2 separate regions of the Homo sapiens genome follow, and region 1 is linked to region 2. Evidence: fine-mapped expression QTL. Tissue or cell type: activated CD8 T cells. Region 2 holds a variant in brackets; the other region holds the start of a gene. All regions are shown on one strand. Distances are from middle to middle.

Region 1 (8,170 bases), 120 kb before region 2:
GTTTTTTAAATTTTTTATTTTTAAGACAGAGTCTTAAAATATGATGGTGCACAAGACATTTTTGAAGGCTTGGAGGTCACAGGAAGGGATTTAAGAAAAGAAAAATCCATTCTTACACCTGATTTCATTCACTCATTCATTTATTCATTCAATTATGTGCCAAGCCCCTTCTGGAGAGAATCAGCTGTTCACAGTGCAGCTTGCGAGGGGCTGCCACCCAGGCTCTGGAGTGCAGTGGGGCAATCTCGGTTCACTGCAACCTCCACCTCCTGGGCTCAAGCGATCCTCCCACTTCAGCCTCTCAAGTAGCTGGGACTTAAGACACTCACCACCATGCCCAACTGATTTTTAAAACTTTTTTTTTGTAGACACGGTGGCTCACTATGTTGCCCAGACGGGCCTTGAACTCTCCTGGCCTCAAAGGGCCCTCCCACCTAGGCCTCCCAAAGTGTTGGGATTACAGGCATGAGCCATCACGCCCAGCCAGATGTTTTCTTATATATGAACTTGTCTTCTATTGATTAACAATTAATTTTGTGATTACAAACTCTGGTGCTGCGAACATTCTGGGACATACATTTATGCACAAGTATATCTACAGAATAAATTCTTTTTTAAAAAAATTATTATACCTTAAGTTCTAGGGTACATGTGCACAACGTGCAGGTTTGTTACATAGGTATACATGTGCCGTGTTGGTTTGCTGCACCCATCAGCTCGTCATTTACGTTAGGTATTTCTCCTGATGCTATCCCTCCCTCAGCCCCCACCCCCTGACAGGCCCTGCTATGTGATGTTCCCCTCCCTGTGTCCATGTGTTCTCATTGTTCAACTCCCACTTATGAGTGAGAGCATACGGTGTTTGGTTTTCTGTCCTTGTGATATTTTGCTGAGAATGATGGTTTCCAGCTTTACCCATGTCCATGTAAAGGACATGAACTCATCCTTTTTTATGGCTGCATAGTATTCCATGGTATATATGTGCCACATTTTCTTTATCCAGTCTATTGTTGGTGGACATATGGGTTGGTTCCAAGTCTTTGCTATTGTGAATAGTGCCACAATAAACATACGTGTGCATGTGCCTTTATAGTAGCATGATTTATAATCCTTTGGGTATATACCCAGTAATGGGATGGCTGGGTCAAATGGTATTTCTAGTTCTAGATCCTTGAGGAATCTCTACACTGTCTTTCACAATGGTTGAACTAATTTACACTCCCACCAACAGTGTAAAAGTGTTCCTATTTCTCCACATCCTCTCCAGCATCTGTTGTTTCCTGACTTTTTAAAGATCGTCATTACAAAATAACTTCTTAGAGGTAGAGTGTTGGATCAAGGTCATTGGAAATGTCCTCTCTGGAGTATGTATCTGTGTGTGTGCACGTGCATGTGTGTTTTTGGAAAGCAGGATTGCATACTGAGAAAAGTATGAGCTCTGGGGCCAGGTTGCTGGACTCATCACCTTTTCTCATTTCCTTAAGCAGTGCTGTGACCTTGGGCAAGTTACTTAAGTTTCTGTGTCTTGGTTTTCTAATGAGTAAAAATGGGAATAATAATATCACCTTTCTTCTAGGGTTGTGAGGATTAAATGAGTTAATTTGCTGAGATTCATGTCTGATACCAAACACTCAATAACCATGGCCTGTTACTGAGTGTTATTCTAGGTCAGACTTAGCAACACACTAATCAGAAAGTCTACTGTTCTTAGCGGGCCAGTGCTGGAACTCCGATGAGTTCATGCGTGCCTCTGAGCACACCCACTGAGCGAGGAGAGGTGGTCCTCAGAGCCCGGATGCAAGCCCAGGGCCTCCGCAGACCTAGAAAGTGGCTCTGAGCTTTCTTCCTCAGCGGTCTCCTGAATGTGGCCGCTCGCAAGCTGCACTGTGAACTGCTGACTCTCTGTTCCAAAAGGGGCTTGACACATAATTGAATGAATATATGAATGAGTGAATGAAACCAGGTGTAAGAGTGCATTTTTCTTTTCTTAAATCCCTTCCTGTTACCTCCAAGCCTTCAAAAATGTCTTATGCAGCATCACAGCCCCGATTTACTATACGTGTGCTTGGAGGGGCACAGCATGGCACGACCCGACCCGAGTGGACTGTAGCAACCAAGTCAAATGGGAGACAAAGTGCAGTTCCGAGGGGTCTCCAGGAATATCTGGGAGGGGGGACCCTGGTAGAAACCTGAACCCCCTGATTTCTTATGGGTGGGGAATTTGGACAGCTTGCACTTGGGACACAATGAAAAAAGAATGAGCTCACAACCCTGGGAAGCCAGAAACAGCTTGGATAGCACGGGGCCTGCCACACGGTAACCTCTAAATAAATGGAAGCTTTCTATATTCTAACTTTCAGTAGAGACTAAAATAAAATGTGCATTTGATGCCATATCCACTCATTCTAAAGCCATATCTGCCTTTTTGTATTATGAATATGACTGTCCATTTAGAACAATATTTCCCGTATGGCCATTACATCTATAAAATGATTGTTAGATAGAATGAGACTCAGAGGACAGATAGGAGAACAGGGATCTCGGGCACCCAACAAGCCCTTCTTAGTGGCATAAACTTGCCTTAGTCACATGAAATTTCAAAGAATTGGTTTCTGCCTCTGTAAAACGGGAATCAGTGCCATAATATAATAACTACCACCTGTCTGGGCCAAAGAGCACATCTTGACATTAAATTAAAAGAGAGAGCAAACAAATTAATTAAGAGTGGGTAACATGCCCAGAAATCTTGACCCTAAAATCACTATTAACGGTAAAAGCATTACAGTATTACATTTCTATAACATTCCTAGCAGACAGTTGGCTAAGGAAAAATCTTGATTCTGAATTGTCTTAGAATATGTTTATAATTTATTATTTTTCACCATTCACATATTAATGTGTTGAGAAACAGAAGATCTATGTTCAAAAAGGAGTTACTTTCTGAAAGTAGGTGATATATACCATATAGGTAGAATACTTCACATGTACATAATACCTCCACACATAATAACATAATACATAAGGATAATTGTTAATGTAGGGCTCTCTTTTTTCTTTTTGGTATTGTTGAAAACTAATCAAGAACTTAGCCTAGCTAGTAAAAAAAAAAAAATCAAATTACCAAAGACCTATTTATAGTTATCAGAAAAGGCAATGTGGATCCTGAAACCAGGAAACTTGTTTTGAGGGTGGGGGGAAGATTCCGGGAAGATTCCGGAAAGATCCCGAAAAGTCCAGAAAGATTCAGAAAACACATCACACCGCATCTCTCCAGGCGAAAGATTGAGTCTACCTCCTATTTTAATAATGAAACAGCTGCTAGGGTCGTGGCCCTTCTAGGGGTCTTCATTTGTGATGGACAACTGGGTCGTTTTTGTTTTGTTTGGGGGAATAAATATTTGAAGGGGGGTAACCAAAGAAGGTTTTGCTGCTGTTATGATGTTATTGATACGCAGGCTGACGCTATTATGGCAGATGCTATCAGGCTACATTATCTTTATGCCTCCTAGGTAACCTGAAGCAATTGTCTATTGACTTGGCACTACCCTACCCTGAAGCGTCTGCCCTGCCTAGGAACTGTAACCGGAGCCACTCACATGCCTCCCCAACAGCTTTCTTTAGCCACTGACAGCATCACAGAAGGAAGAGCGCGAAATTGCCCAGGATGGACACTTTCAAAGGGGCCCCAGCGGCTAAGTGACTCTCAGGGAAGGTGGCCTTGCCATCCCAACTTCTATTTAGGGGCAACCACTAGCAAGTTCTTCTCTTCGGGCAATTGGAAAGAGTTCCTATAAGCAAAGTGGAGGTGATGTGGACCCCTGGAAAATTTCCTTGCCCCGTTTGAACTTTGCAATGATTCACTGCAAGTCATGTCCACGTGGAAAGCAAGACTCACCAAAAGACTGAAGTCTCCCTCTAGAAGCATGCATCCATTTCCGTGCTCAGCTCTGCTCGCCTGTTTTGGGAATACGAGGGAGAGTGCTTCCTTCAATCAGTCCGGCGTGGCTGATACTCATTCCACCGTCCGTGTGCAGCCTGTGGCCAAAGCAGGCAGACAGCCAAGACACCCAAGCGCAGAAGGAGCTCCAGAGAAAAGGCAAGATTCGAGCACCCATGCAGAGAGAAATGGCAGTGCGAATCGGAATTCAAGTCACCGCACTGCGGCCCAGCCCGCGGAGACGCCTGAAGATGTGCCCGGGTCCCTGGATGATGGGGCGGACTGTGAAGCAGTGGTGTTTCACGCTTCCATCCCCAGACCATCAATTATTGACACGCCCAAGGTGAGTGAGTGTTCGCTCTGCGATTATAGACGGGATGGAGCTGGAGGAGCGTTGGGATCATGTGGCGAATGTTTCAGCAAACAAACTCATTTAACCTTACTGAATAAGGCATTGCGGGCGTTCTCACTAGTGCGAAGAAGTGTGTTAAAGCCGTGTAGATTCTCAGAGTGTTCTCAAAAGATGTGGATGAGGCAATGATAATAAGCACTGGAGCCATGGCAATGACCGAAGGTAACCTTGAATTAACGGGCTAGGGTGCCTTAGAGCCAAAAATGGCTCACTCAATAACAGATTAGGAGTAAGATAGTTTACAAAAACATTTTTTTCCTTTTTCTATTTCCCCCTCCACCCCCACCGGTCTGTCAATTTATTTATATGAAAATCCACAATCTAAAAAGTTTGGCTAGGGAATTCACAAAACTGCCTCTACTTAAAATGAATCACATGATATCAAAGCAGTCTGGAAAAATTTGGAAATGATCATCAGTGTATGCCTAGTGGTACGGAAGGGAACTGACCTATAAAACTATTCATAATATGGATGTTTTTGTGATAATCTTCTGAGAGTTGAAGGCAGGAGGAGGAAGTTATTTAAAAAAAATGGTGCCACTGCTCTTAAGAGTTATTTACTTATTTTCTTTCCATTTTTGGCATCAGTGAATTTTAATTGTTGAGTATTCTGATTAGATGGAGCTGTACAATTATTTCAAAGTTCCCGGTAATCCCAGTTTGCAGATGCAGTGTAGAGGAAAGGTTTTCTAAAAGGTACACTCCAAAGATATCTCTTGACCATTTTTGGTCATTTCCTAGCCAAGTAGCTTAGGACCAGACTTAAAAAACTGAGAAGTCTTTGGGGATCCATCACTAAAGTATTCTGATTTTTTAAATCATTTTTCCACATCCGTTTAACAAATTATTTTTTGGTCTGGCTTGCTTCACAGAATCTAAGAAGCCTCCTTAGCAAGAACACAGCCAACCAGCAAAGATAGGGTTAAAACATCATTTAAAAAATAGTTTCATTTGACACCCTGCAGGTTTATATGAAATGACTGAAGCTTGGGTCTGTCGTCTGCATTCTGAAATTGGACAGAGAGTTTTACCATATCCTCTGTCACAGCAAAAACTGCTATGTTTTTTTCTAGCACCACTAAACCAAAGCCCATAACCAACCAGCAAAAACCAAAATTTTCAGTGTATAGCCACATCCAGATTAAGATATTTTTGGTAGTATTATAGGTAGCTGATTAGAATTCATGGCCAAGTTGATATTTGTTGGATATTTATGGTACCAATGATGTACAGTTTTAATGAACCGGAAGACTTTCTGTTGAGCAATGCAGACCCACCTTATATTACTGAAGACAGCCGCAAGAACAAAGGGTTACTTTGATTTTATCTTTCTGTTTTAGTTGCACATGGGACTCAGGGACTCAAGGCAAGCATGTGAATTCAAATAGAACCAATAACACAAAATGGGGCCACATCCATGTTTAGTGTCCACTTGGCAGGAGCAAAGCCATGGGTGGTCCACAGCGTAGGATGGATTACAGTTGGGAAGCCCGGAGCAGAGAGGACATTGTAACAATCCAGACAGGAACAACAGGGAGATAAAGTGGGAGGGGCTCCATGAGGCAGGACACGCGGCAGTTGACTGTGCGGTCCAAACCAGGCAGGGAGGGAAGCAGTGATGCAATGCAAACACTGAAATCAAGTGCCAGGAGGTGCAGGAAGAGGGCCTGATGTGGGTAAATGGGCATCTATTCTAGTTCAAACACCGAGAGCTAAGCTGTGCAGAGCACTTGTAGTTCGCTAGCCCTTATTCTAAGTGCTTTACACAGAGTATCTCAGCCAACCCTGGTGACAGTGAGGTGCATATATATATATATATATTTTTTTTTTAAGATGGAGTCTTGCTCTGTCTCCCAGGCTGGAGTGCAGTGGCACGATCTTGGCTCACTGCAGCCTCTGCCTCCCAGGTTCAAGCAATTCTCCTGCCTCAGCCCCACGAGTGGCTGGGACTACAGGTGCCTGCCACCAGGCCCAGCTAAGTTTTTGTATTTTCAGTAGAGATGGGATTTCACCGTGTTAGCCAGGATGGTCTCGATCTCCTGTCCTCATGACTCCCCCGCCCAGCCTCCCAAAGTGCTGGGATTACAGGAGTGAGCCACCATGCCCGGCCAGTGCATATTCTTATGGTGCCCATGTTACAGAGGAGGGCATGGATGCTTAAAGAGGGTAAGACATTTGCCCAAGGCCACAAAGAGAGGATGTGGCAGAGACAGGACTGGAACCCACTTCTGTTTGACTCCAAAGTCCATCCTCTGAATTATAATGTGCTTCTACTACTAATTAATTGTGTAGTGTTTGAGGATTTAGGATCAACTATTCATATGTGATCTCGCTTGATACTCAATCACATTTAAATATCATACATATTGGCTGGGCATAGTGGCTCATGCCTGTCACCCAGAGCTTTGGAAAGCCAAGGAGGGAGAATCACTTGAGACCAGAAGTTTGAGACCAGCCTGGGCAACATAACGAAGGTTCATCTCTACAAAAATGAATAAATTAATTCCATGTATTTATATGTTGATGTCGATATAATTATTATTTGTTTTTTAATTTATTTTTATTTGTTGTTATTTTAATTGATATATCACAGTTGTATATTTTTTGGGGTATGTATACATGTATAAATGTGTAATTAAATCAGGGTAACTGGGATATCTACCACCTCAAACACTTACCTTTTCCCTGTGTTGAGAACATTACAATTCCTGTCTTCTAGCTATTTTGAAATACACAATAAATTATTGTTAACTATAACTTCTCCACCGTACTATCGAATACTCGAATTTGTTCCTTCTAACTGTACTTTTGTATCCAGTAACCAACTCCTCTTAATGATATTCAATAACTATTATTATTTGTTTTTATTCATATGCTTTACCCTTTTCTACCATAGCTTCATGGTATATAACACCACAGAAGATGTCCATTTTGCATCCTGTGAGTGACAAAGCTTTGCCGCTGGCAGTGTGGGGGATTGCTTTGAGATCTTCTGATTAAAAGTGGCTTAGAACTGCCCAGATTTTTCATTACCAAGTGACTTTGCAATGGCATGTTTTCCCTTAGCAGATGATGAATGAGATGCTTTTATTACAATCTTGCCTGGCGGAAAAATATTTCCCTTTTGGATGCACTGATCCTCATTATTTAAGCTGCCTCTGTAGAGGCCACAAATAATCTTTTTTTTTTTTTTTTTTTTTTTTTTTTTAGTTCAGCCTCAGACATAAGGTAAGAAATGGGGACAAGCCCCTCTCTCTATCTTCAGTTACCTGATGTTCAGACAGGAGGGTGGCTCATTTATATTGGAAACAATATCTGGTTCAAGAGAGAAAGCTTGAGGTAATGAAGCTAAACAAACTAAGCAAATATGAAACATTTTTGTTTGGTTTAGTGATGAGCGCACATGTCTGTATTGAAGAAATGCTATTGATCAGTCTTCAACTTTTTGTATTCATCTCTTTTCTGTTCCAGACCTGAAACCAAAGTGATAACAACCCTAAAATGGGAATGTGTCTTATAATTGTTAGTACCTCTTAATGATAACTTTTCCCCTTCTTAGTGGTCTTGTAGTTGAAGTGTCATATCATTGATGGAATTGTAGACTCAACGAAATTCAGCAGTACTGCTGTTTATTTTATTTTATTTTTATTTTTATTTTTTTGAGGCAGAGTCTTGCTCCATCACCCAGACTGGAGTGTAGTGGTGCGATCTCGGCTCACTGCAACTTCTGCCTCCCGTGTTCAAGTAATTCTCCTGCCTCAGCATCCCAAGTAGCTGGGATTACAGGCGCCAGCCACCACGCCTGGCTAATTTTTGTATTT
Region 2 (8,198 bases):
CCGTTCTTGCATTGCTGTAAAGAACTACCTGAGACGGGATAATTTATAAAGAAAAGAGGTTTAATTGGAACACAGTTCTGCAGGCTGTACAGGAAGCGTGGCTGGGGAGGCCTTGGGAAACTTACAGTTGTGGCAGAAGGTGAAGGGGAAGTAGGCAGGTCCTACATGGCTGGAGAAGGAGGAAGAGGGCGAAGTGGAAGGTGCTACATACTTTTAAACAACCAGATCTAGTGAGAGCTCACTATCACAAGAACAGGGGAAAATCCACTCACATGATCCAGTCACCTCCTGCCAGGCCCCTCCTCCAACATTGGGGGTTACAATTTGACATGAGGTTTGGGGAAGGACACAAATCCAAACCTCATGACCTGGGTAGCATCTCTTTCCTTTTTCCTTTCCATGGTATGTGTTCCTTTTCTAGAGCCTTCTATGGGTTGCTCTGCCTTTTTACTTTAGAAAGAAAGTTCTAGAATGAGGCTTCATTTACTCTCTTCTTATTCCACCAAATGGCTCTCAGAATAAGCCAAGCACCATGCACATATACCACATGCAATATACAAAAGCATTGGTATTGAATAAGATTCAATTGAATATTTGAACAATTTTAGCACAAAGACTCAGGTTTGTAGGTGACATACAGAAACTACGGATCCTTCACTTACTAATTTTATTTGTAACCAAATGAGTAGAAATTACATAGTACCACTTTTATAGAGAGAGGGAGATTAACAGTCTTTCAGAGGTGGCACATCTTGTCTTCATTCATTCATTCCCTTGTGGGCAGGGAGATGGATGAATGGGCCAACCATGCTTTCTTGAGATAATTCTTTTTGAAAATAAGTTGCATTCTTTCTAGTGGCCATTTTTTTTTAAGTGAAATGTGTTTGAAAAACGTTGGCTTCAATTTGCCATTCCTCTTAAACCATGCATTGCTTTAGAAACAGGCCAGGTTTTTTTGAATGCTGAAACAAGTTTCCAATAAGTGTACCATTCCAGAAGACCTTGTGGAATCCTCATTCTCTTTTAGGTTGCACTCAACCTGTGCTGCCAGGACCTCAAAGATTACACCACTTGGTCATACGAGGGGAGAATCCTGTAAGTTGGAGGCTGTTGGTTATGGTCAAAGGGTTTCATCAGAACACCCTCTTTTTGCTAAAGGTCACCTAGAACTGAGTGGAGCCCAGCACATTTTCGGAGTTGGCTGTCTGTGTCATCTGCATTTAGTCAAGTTTCATTTCCTGTGGTTTGTAGATTTCTTAAGTGTGAAGTAACGAACCCCAAACAGTTAAAATTCTTTACCTAAAAATGGATGAAATGAGAAAAAAAAATAAGTATTTTTGTAACTTCTGTGGGGAAGTGAGACTGGGGTTCCACTGAGCAGTTCCTTGTTGCTGCGCACATAAGGCCAGCCCCTCTGCGGGAAGGTCCATGACACTTGGAGTTCAGATCTCCTTGCTGGGCATCTTAGGAGGTGACAAAACGAGACCCATTTTCTGACAATTCAGACAAAGTGTCTGCTTTTACTTTCATGTCGTGGGAGAACAGTCAACAGTGCAGTTTCCACCAGAACCCACTATATCTCAGTCACACACCCCTCTGATTTTGTGCAAGAGTTGTTTATCTTCCATACAGATTTTTCTGAGTCTTTGGCCACAGATGAACAGAAAACAGTTGAGGTAGGAAGGTGAGAAAAAAAGAAGGGAAACTTATCCTGAGTTTGCTTTCTTTCCATTCCCTTAACCTTAGGGCAGACAGTTTTTTGTTTGCTTGTTTTGTTTTGTTTTGTTTTGTTTTGAGACGGAGTTTTGCTCTTTCACCTAGGCTGGAGTGAAGTGGGGCAATCTCAGCTCACTGCAACCTCTGCCCCCTCCCCACCAGCAATTCTCCTGCCTCAGCCTCCGGAGGAGCTGAGACTACAGGTGCGCGCCACCATGCCCAGCTAATTTTTGTATTTTCAGTAGAGACGGGGTTTTGCCATGTTGGTGAGGCTGGTCTCAAACTCCTGACCTTAGGTGATCCACCCACCTCAGCCTCCCAAAGTGCTAGGATTACAGGTGTGAGCCACCGTGCCCAGCCAGGGCAGACAGTTTGAGGGTTCATGGGAGGCCTTTAATTACGGAAAATGCTACTGGGGATAGTAGAGGACTTTTAGTGAAGACCTGGTCCCCAGACTCTTTATGGGACTTTTTGGTCTGCACAGCTCCTTCTGTTGGGTCTTTGTTTTCAGTGAGAGCTTCCTTGACCACTTTCTGCAAAACTGCAACCTTTCCTTCAACTCTTACTTCCTTGTTTGTTTTGGTTTTTGAAACCACTTGTCACTATCCACACATTATATAATTCACTTGCTTTTTGTCTGTCGTCCCCTTCTAGAAGGTAAGCATCATGAAGGCAGGGATGTTTGACCATTTTTTGTCCTGCTGCAAACATAATGAATGCCTAGGATGGAGCCTGACATATAGGAGGCACTCAGTGAATATTTATTAAATGGGGAATGAACCCTTGCTCTTTTTAAACTTGCTGAAGCAAGTAGATGAATCAATCACTTCTTGGCCTTTTGGCTAAATCAAGTGAAGCAGATGAGTCAGAAACTGGAATTGCGTCTTTTTCTCTTTGTTTTCTGCCCCCAGCTCCTCGCACAATTCTTGGACTATGTAGGAACTGAAAAGTAATGGTTGTTTGACTAAAGTATGCATGCATGAATGAATGATTGAGTCTGGTTTACAACGTGACTTTTGATGTAAAAACTGTTGTTTATTTGGGTACTTAACACATATAAAGCAAACCATGCTAATCCACGGAGAGTCAAAGATGAGTCAGACATGGGTCAGACATGGGTCTTGCCTTCAAGATGCTAAATAGACTTCCTTTGTCCTGAGTTTACTTTCTTTCTGTTCCCTTAACCGTAGGACAGTCTGTGGGGTCACAGGAAGTCTTTTCTTAGGGGAAATGCTCCTGGGGGTTGTAGATGATGACTTTCAGTGAAGACCTGACCTCTAAACTCTTTTATGGGACTCAACTATCATAGCTTGTATTTTAGTCTAAAGAATCTCAACATTTTGTCTCTATTTCAAATAATAGTAATTGGATTTTCACTGTCGTATAAATTCTTCCCAAGAAATGAAGGTTAGCCAGGTGCTAATTACGCCTGTAATCCCAGCACT[T/C]TGGGGGGCCGAAGTGGGTGGATTGCTTGAGCCCAGGAGTTGGAGACCAGCTTGAGCAACATGACAAAACCCCAACCTACAAAAAAAGAGAAAACATTAGCCGGGTGTGGTGGTGTGTGACTGCAGTCCCAGCTACTTGGGAGGCTGAGGTGGGAGGATCTCTTGAGTCTGGGCTGCCAAGGCTGCAGTGAGCTGGGATCGCGCCACTGCACTCCAGACTGGGCGACAGAGTGAGACCAGCCTCAAAAAAAAGGAAAAAAAAAAGTGAAGGTGGCAACATGCTTGTTGCTGGAGGTTTATTAGAAGAACATAGACATGAAAGTCATACAATCCCTGTTCCAAGAACTTAAAACACCAGTGAACAAGAGGCCACGGGCTGTAATATATATTAACAAAGAGAAAATGTTTCTAGAACTCATTTATAAATCTTGCATTATTAAGTGTAAGTAGGAGAAAGTTGGTTGGTTTTCCATCTAGGTTCTAGATTTATTTCCACATGCTAAGTCTGTGGAAATTGCCCTGGAATCCAAGGAGATGTTTCTCTGGTGACCAGGGGTGGGGGTGAAGATTTGGGGCTGGAGGTGTCTGTCTTTGGGAGGGTAAGGCCAGCAATGGTATGCTCCTAGTCTGAAGTGAACGAGACTTCCTGGCCTGCCTATTTCAAGATGTGCCAATCTGTGTCCAGTCCTCTGCCATTTTGCCTTGAGAAGGTGTCAGGCTAATGAGATAGGATTTCCAAGTACAAAGCACCCTCCTAGGCCGAATCTGTTAAGTGGTGTTACCACTCAGGGTTTGGAAACCCTGTCATTCATCCTCCTCAGAGTCATTGGAGAGCAGTCTGTGCTTTCCCCTCTCTACATGGGCAGAGAGCAAATTGCTTCCAGATTTTTCTGTTTAGGAAATTTAACAGATCATTTATTGTTCATAAATGGGAAAATACAAAAATACCTAAAATGAGGGTTTGATTTAGTCCTCTGTATTCAAGGTGAGCCTGATGTGGTGTTGATGGACTGGGCACATGTGCCTTAAAGAGGAGCTGAGCTGCACCTGTGCAGCAAGCTGTTTAGCCTTGACATTGTGCTCACATGCCCATGGGACACCTCAGTAGTCTAGTTAGTATGACCTATTCTTCTCCATCCAATCCTATGTCCTCTTAACACAGTGGGAATGGAGGCATGGAACTTTCCAGAAGTTTGCCCAGGTTGTAAGGTGAACCAGTTACCGGTTACCAGGAATGAAATTTTCAGTGTGCACAAATTGAAGCAGAATTGCCTAATTTTTTGTGTGTGCTGCAAGCTGCGTTTCTACACTCTTTCACTTTCTTTTACTATTTTCTTATTTGTTTGTTTAAAATTTAATGTTGGCCCTTTGTAAAAATTTCTTAGAGAAGGAGGAATTCTGAAGGTGACATTAACATCCAAAATCAGAAGTAAAGTGATGATCTTTAACTGTTTGCATCCTGGAGGAATCTCTCTACCCACTTCTTACTTCTCACTTCCTTCCCCCACATTGGTATAAAAAGAAGAACTTGTATTGCATGCCAGGAACCCGAATGTCCAGTCACTTGTCTCCTTGGAGTGCACCTCTCCTTCCATTCTGATGACATGGAAGGTGGAAATTGTCATCTAGAAATTTCAACTGGTGGTCACAAAGCCTCCCAAGAGAGAAAATCCAAAGTTTTCAAATCTCAAAGATGGTAATTGTTGGCGTTGCTTTTGCAATTTACCCATGTTTTCCTGAAAACCTTCAAATGAAGTGAAATTTTGGCCCTGGAAGTTCCCTGTGAAGTCAGCCTCTTTATCGCCCCCATGCCCCACACTGGTTCGGAGTGGTGTAGGAGCCACCTTACCTTGCTCTACTCCTCAGTGTTTCCTGGTAAATCAGTTGCTGCTCCAGAATTTGTATCTAGGAGGAGCACAGGGGCCAGAACAGGTTGAAAAGACATTAAAGGACTTGTCCTAAAGTCGTTCCTGCACAGCGCTTTATGGAAGATGAGAAAATATCAATTGTTTATATCAGCGATGGGGAGGAGGAGCTGATGAAGTTGGAGTGCATGGCCGACACTCAGCACCCAGCCCCTCTCCCCTTGCCCTTCACTTCAGTGCCTGTGACCCCACTTCTGGCACCTGCATGCCTCTCTGTAAAGGCTTCCTCTCACCCCAGAACCTGCCTCAAGCCCCTGAGGAGTAATTGTCACCCAATCCCTGATCAGACTTTGTGAATAAATACTGCAGCTCACTTTCCCTAGGGTAGGTAGCTGTGGAGCTGGCTCCCAGGGATCCCCAGGAGGGTTAAGCCTCAGTCCCTACAGGAGTAGCCAGCTGCATAAATCCTGTGGTGGCTGCTTTCCCTCCCCTGTCCCGGCTTCCCACCTCTCCTCCTGTTCCCTTCACATATGAACTGCTTCTCCCTGAATCCCTGCCTCAGGGTCTACTTCTAAGGGAACCTGAACTAAGAGAGGGTCCCTTGGCACAGTCACTGTGTTGAACACAACCATAACATATTTTAAAACGTTTGTGCCAGCTACTCGGGAGGCTGAGGCAGGAGAATCGCTTGAACCTGGGAGGCGGAGGTTGCAGTGGGCCAAGATTGCGCCACTGCGCTCCAGCCTAGGCGACAGAGCAAGACTCCGTCACAAAACAAAACAAAACAAAATATTTGTGAGGCTGAGATAGAAAAAAAAGAAAAGAAAACCCTATCAAAAATAATTAAAACACTAAATGCAAACTATCTTCTTTGACTACTTACTACTGCTATGGTTTGGATATTTGTCCCCTCCAAATCTCATGTTGAAATTTGATCCCCAGTGTTGGAGGTGGGGACTAAAGGGAGGTGTTTTGGTCATAAGTGCAGATCCTTCTTCATGAATGGCTTAGTGTCAATCTTGATGGATTGACGGAGCTCTCACCCTTATTTCCCATGAGATCTGACGGTTAAAGAATCTGGCACCTCGTTCTCTCTCTCTTGCATCCTCTCTTGCCATGTAATCTCTGCACATGCCAGCTCCCCTTTTGCCTCAGATGCTGGTGCCATGCTTGTACAGCCTGCAGAACCATGAGTCAAATCAACCTCTTTCCTTTATGAATTACCCAGCCTCAGGTATTTCTTTATAGCAATGCAGAATGAACTGAGACACTACCCCACAGACTGGTTAAAATGGTAGCATTCTCAAGCTTCTTAAAATTCCTTTTCTGAACACAGTTCTCTGACCTTTTCTGAACACAGTGTTCTATGCATCCACTGAGGGGCATTTAATGATTTTAATGATTAGTAAAAGGGAACGGGATTTTTTCACCTTGAAGTTGACTATCGCAAAGCATATCTACTTAGTTACTGGTGTATTTCAACTCAACTTGAACATGCTTATTTGAGCGTAAGAATGGACTTAAATCATAAAATCATTTATTTTTGAATTACCCTATGTGGGCCAAAATATTTGGATTAAATGCTGTTTGTTTCTGTGCAAAATGGAATACATAATCAGATATTTTGTTTTGAGCCTTAAACAACAGCTAAGAGTCTTAAACGAAACTAGCTAAGATCACCTCTGATTTCTTATCCTTCACCACAGAGAGATGATGAGAGCAAGAGATAATAAAACGCAACAGCAATATGTTACTAAAGACCTTTCTCCAATGAATTATGGCTTTCATTAATGAATTAATGCATAGCTGTAATTAATAATTAGGGTTAATATGCGGTCTATATTCCACACAGATATTCAGAAAATAGGAAGTAATTCTGAAGACCCGAAAGGTTATTTCAACTGCTTATGACTGATGTTACAACCAGAGCAAACTCAGCTGTAGATGTGTTTTTGTGGCTTGCAAATTTTTTGAAAATTGGTTGCCAATGTTTAAAAACTGGAAAATTTCATGTAAAAATCTAGGTTCCAATTTCTCTTGAGAAATTGTAAGAACTAGCCAAACCAGGCCTGCATTCCTAAGCAGTGGAAAAAAAAAAAAAATCAACTGGAGTTGCCTTTTTAGCTGGTACCTCCCTATCCTGCCTGGCCCCTGCAGGCATTTGGGGTTTAAATGCCAGGCTTATGACGTTAGAAGAAATATGAGATGAAAGGAAGAAACACAAACAAATAATAAACCTTACAGTTTTCAGGCAAGAAGAAACTCTTCCTTGCATATTTACAGTTGTGTGGACAGTGTTGTGTTTTTGCTTGTTTGTCAGAAATCTCTTCCTTGGCTGTGGTCTGAGGAGCAGGTAAGATCGTGTGGGGTCATTGCTATGGAAACAGGAGAAAACACTAGCCTCAAGCTTGTGGGCGTTACCTCACCCAGTGATCTTTACACAATTCCCTGAAGTTTCCCGCGGTTACATTTTACTGTGTATAAGAGGCTAATACTATACTTTTTAGGGGCATTTTTGTGATTTCAGTAATGAATAATTACAAAATATTTTGCAACTGTGCATTGCCACCAAGGAAATGGAACCACATGGATGACTGTGGCTGCACAGCTAGAAATAACAGTTCTAGCTTGCACCATGATGGCACAGGTGCTTAGAGGTCTCAGGAAAAGTTCCCGAACCATGGGCTTTTCTCCCAGAGCTCTTCCTTGAAAGGGGAACTGAGAGGCCACTGTGTGCTCCTGAGAGGCTGGAGTGAAGAACAGCTTCTGTTCTTGCTCAGCAAGGCTGGTGATGTGAAATTGCCTTTGAGAGCATTTGCCCGCCTGGCTGTGTGCCTGGCACCTTTTAGATAGATTTCGATCAGCATAACTCCAGTGTGCATGGTAATCATGGAAATTTTCAGCTTTCTTCTCCAAGGAGAAACTGATAAAAAGAACAAACTGCCCTTGGCTTTTTCTGAGCCATGGAAACAGAACAGTTCTAAGACTCAAAAAGTCAGGGCACATTTTGCAAAGGCCTGATTCTAGTATTTGGCCTTAATTGTAAATACCGTGGCAGTGGACCATTAGGTCACAAGTGTAATTTGTCCATGTGTTCATTCAACATTTATGGAGCCTTCTCTCTACTCAGGGATTGCGAGTTTTGCCTTCTTGGTTTTGTGTTCAGCCAAGG

Evidence for each region. PIP is the estimated chance that this variant, and not a neighbour inherited with it, causes the effect.
Region 1: it holds the start of FAM107B, and the variant in region 2 is fine-mapped to the expression of FAM107B in activated CD8 T cells (Schmiedel 2018, PIP 0.95).

Annotation. Positions count from the first base shown.
Region 1 is chr10:14,770,363-14,778,532 of GRCh38, reverse strand. FAM107B (family with sequence similarity 107 member B) reads left to right here and starts at 3,636. Exons shown (of 5, transcript NM_031453.4): 1 at 3,636-4,280. The coding sequence starts at 3,870.
Region 2 is chr10:14,653,037-14,661,234 of GRCh38, reverse strand. The region is part of intron 2 of FAM107B (family with sequence similarity 107 member B); the gene reads left to right. LOC105376429 (a long non-coding RNA gene) reads right to left here. Exons shown (of 5, transcript XR_930691.4): 2 at 7,269-7,401; 3 at 6,070-6,205; 4 at 5,011-5,066; 5 at 654-1,299. Among named protein-coding and RNA genes, the nearest start is that of FAM107B, 120 kb to the left of the region's middle. RefSeq lists an enhancer at 1,099-1,188. The variant T/C (reference allele first, on the strand shown) is at 3,162.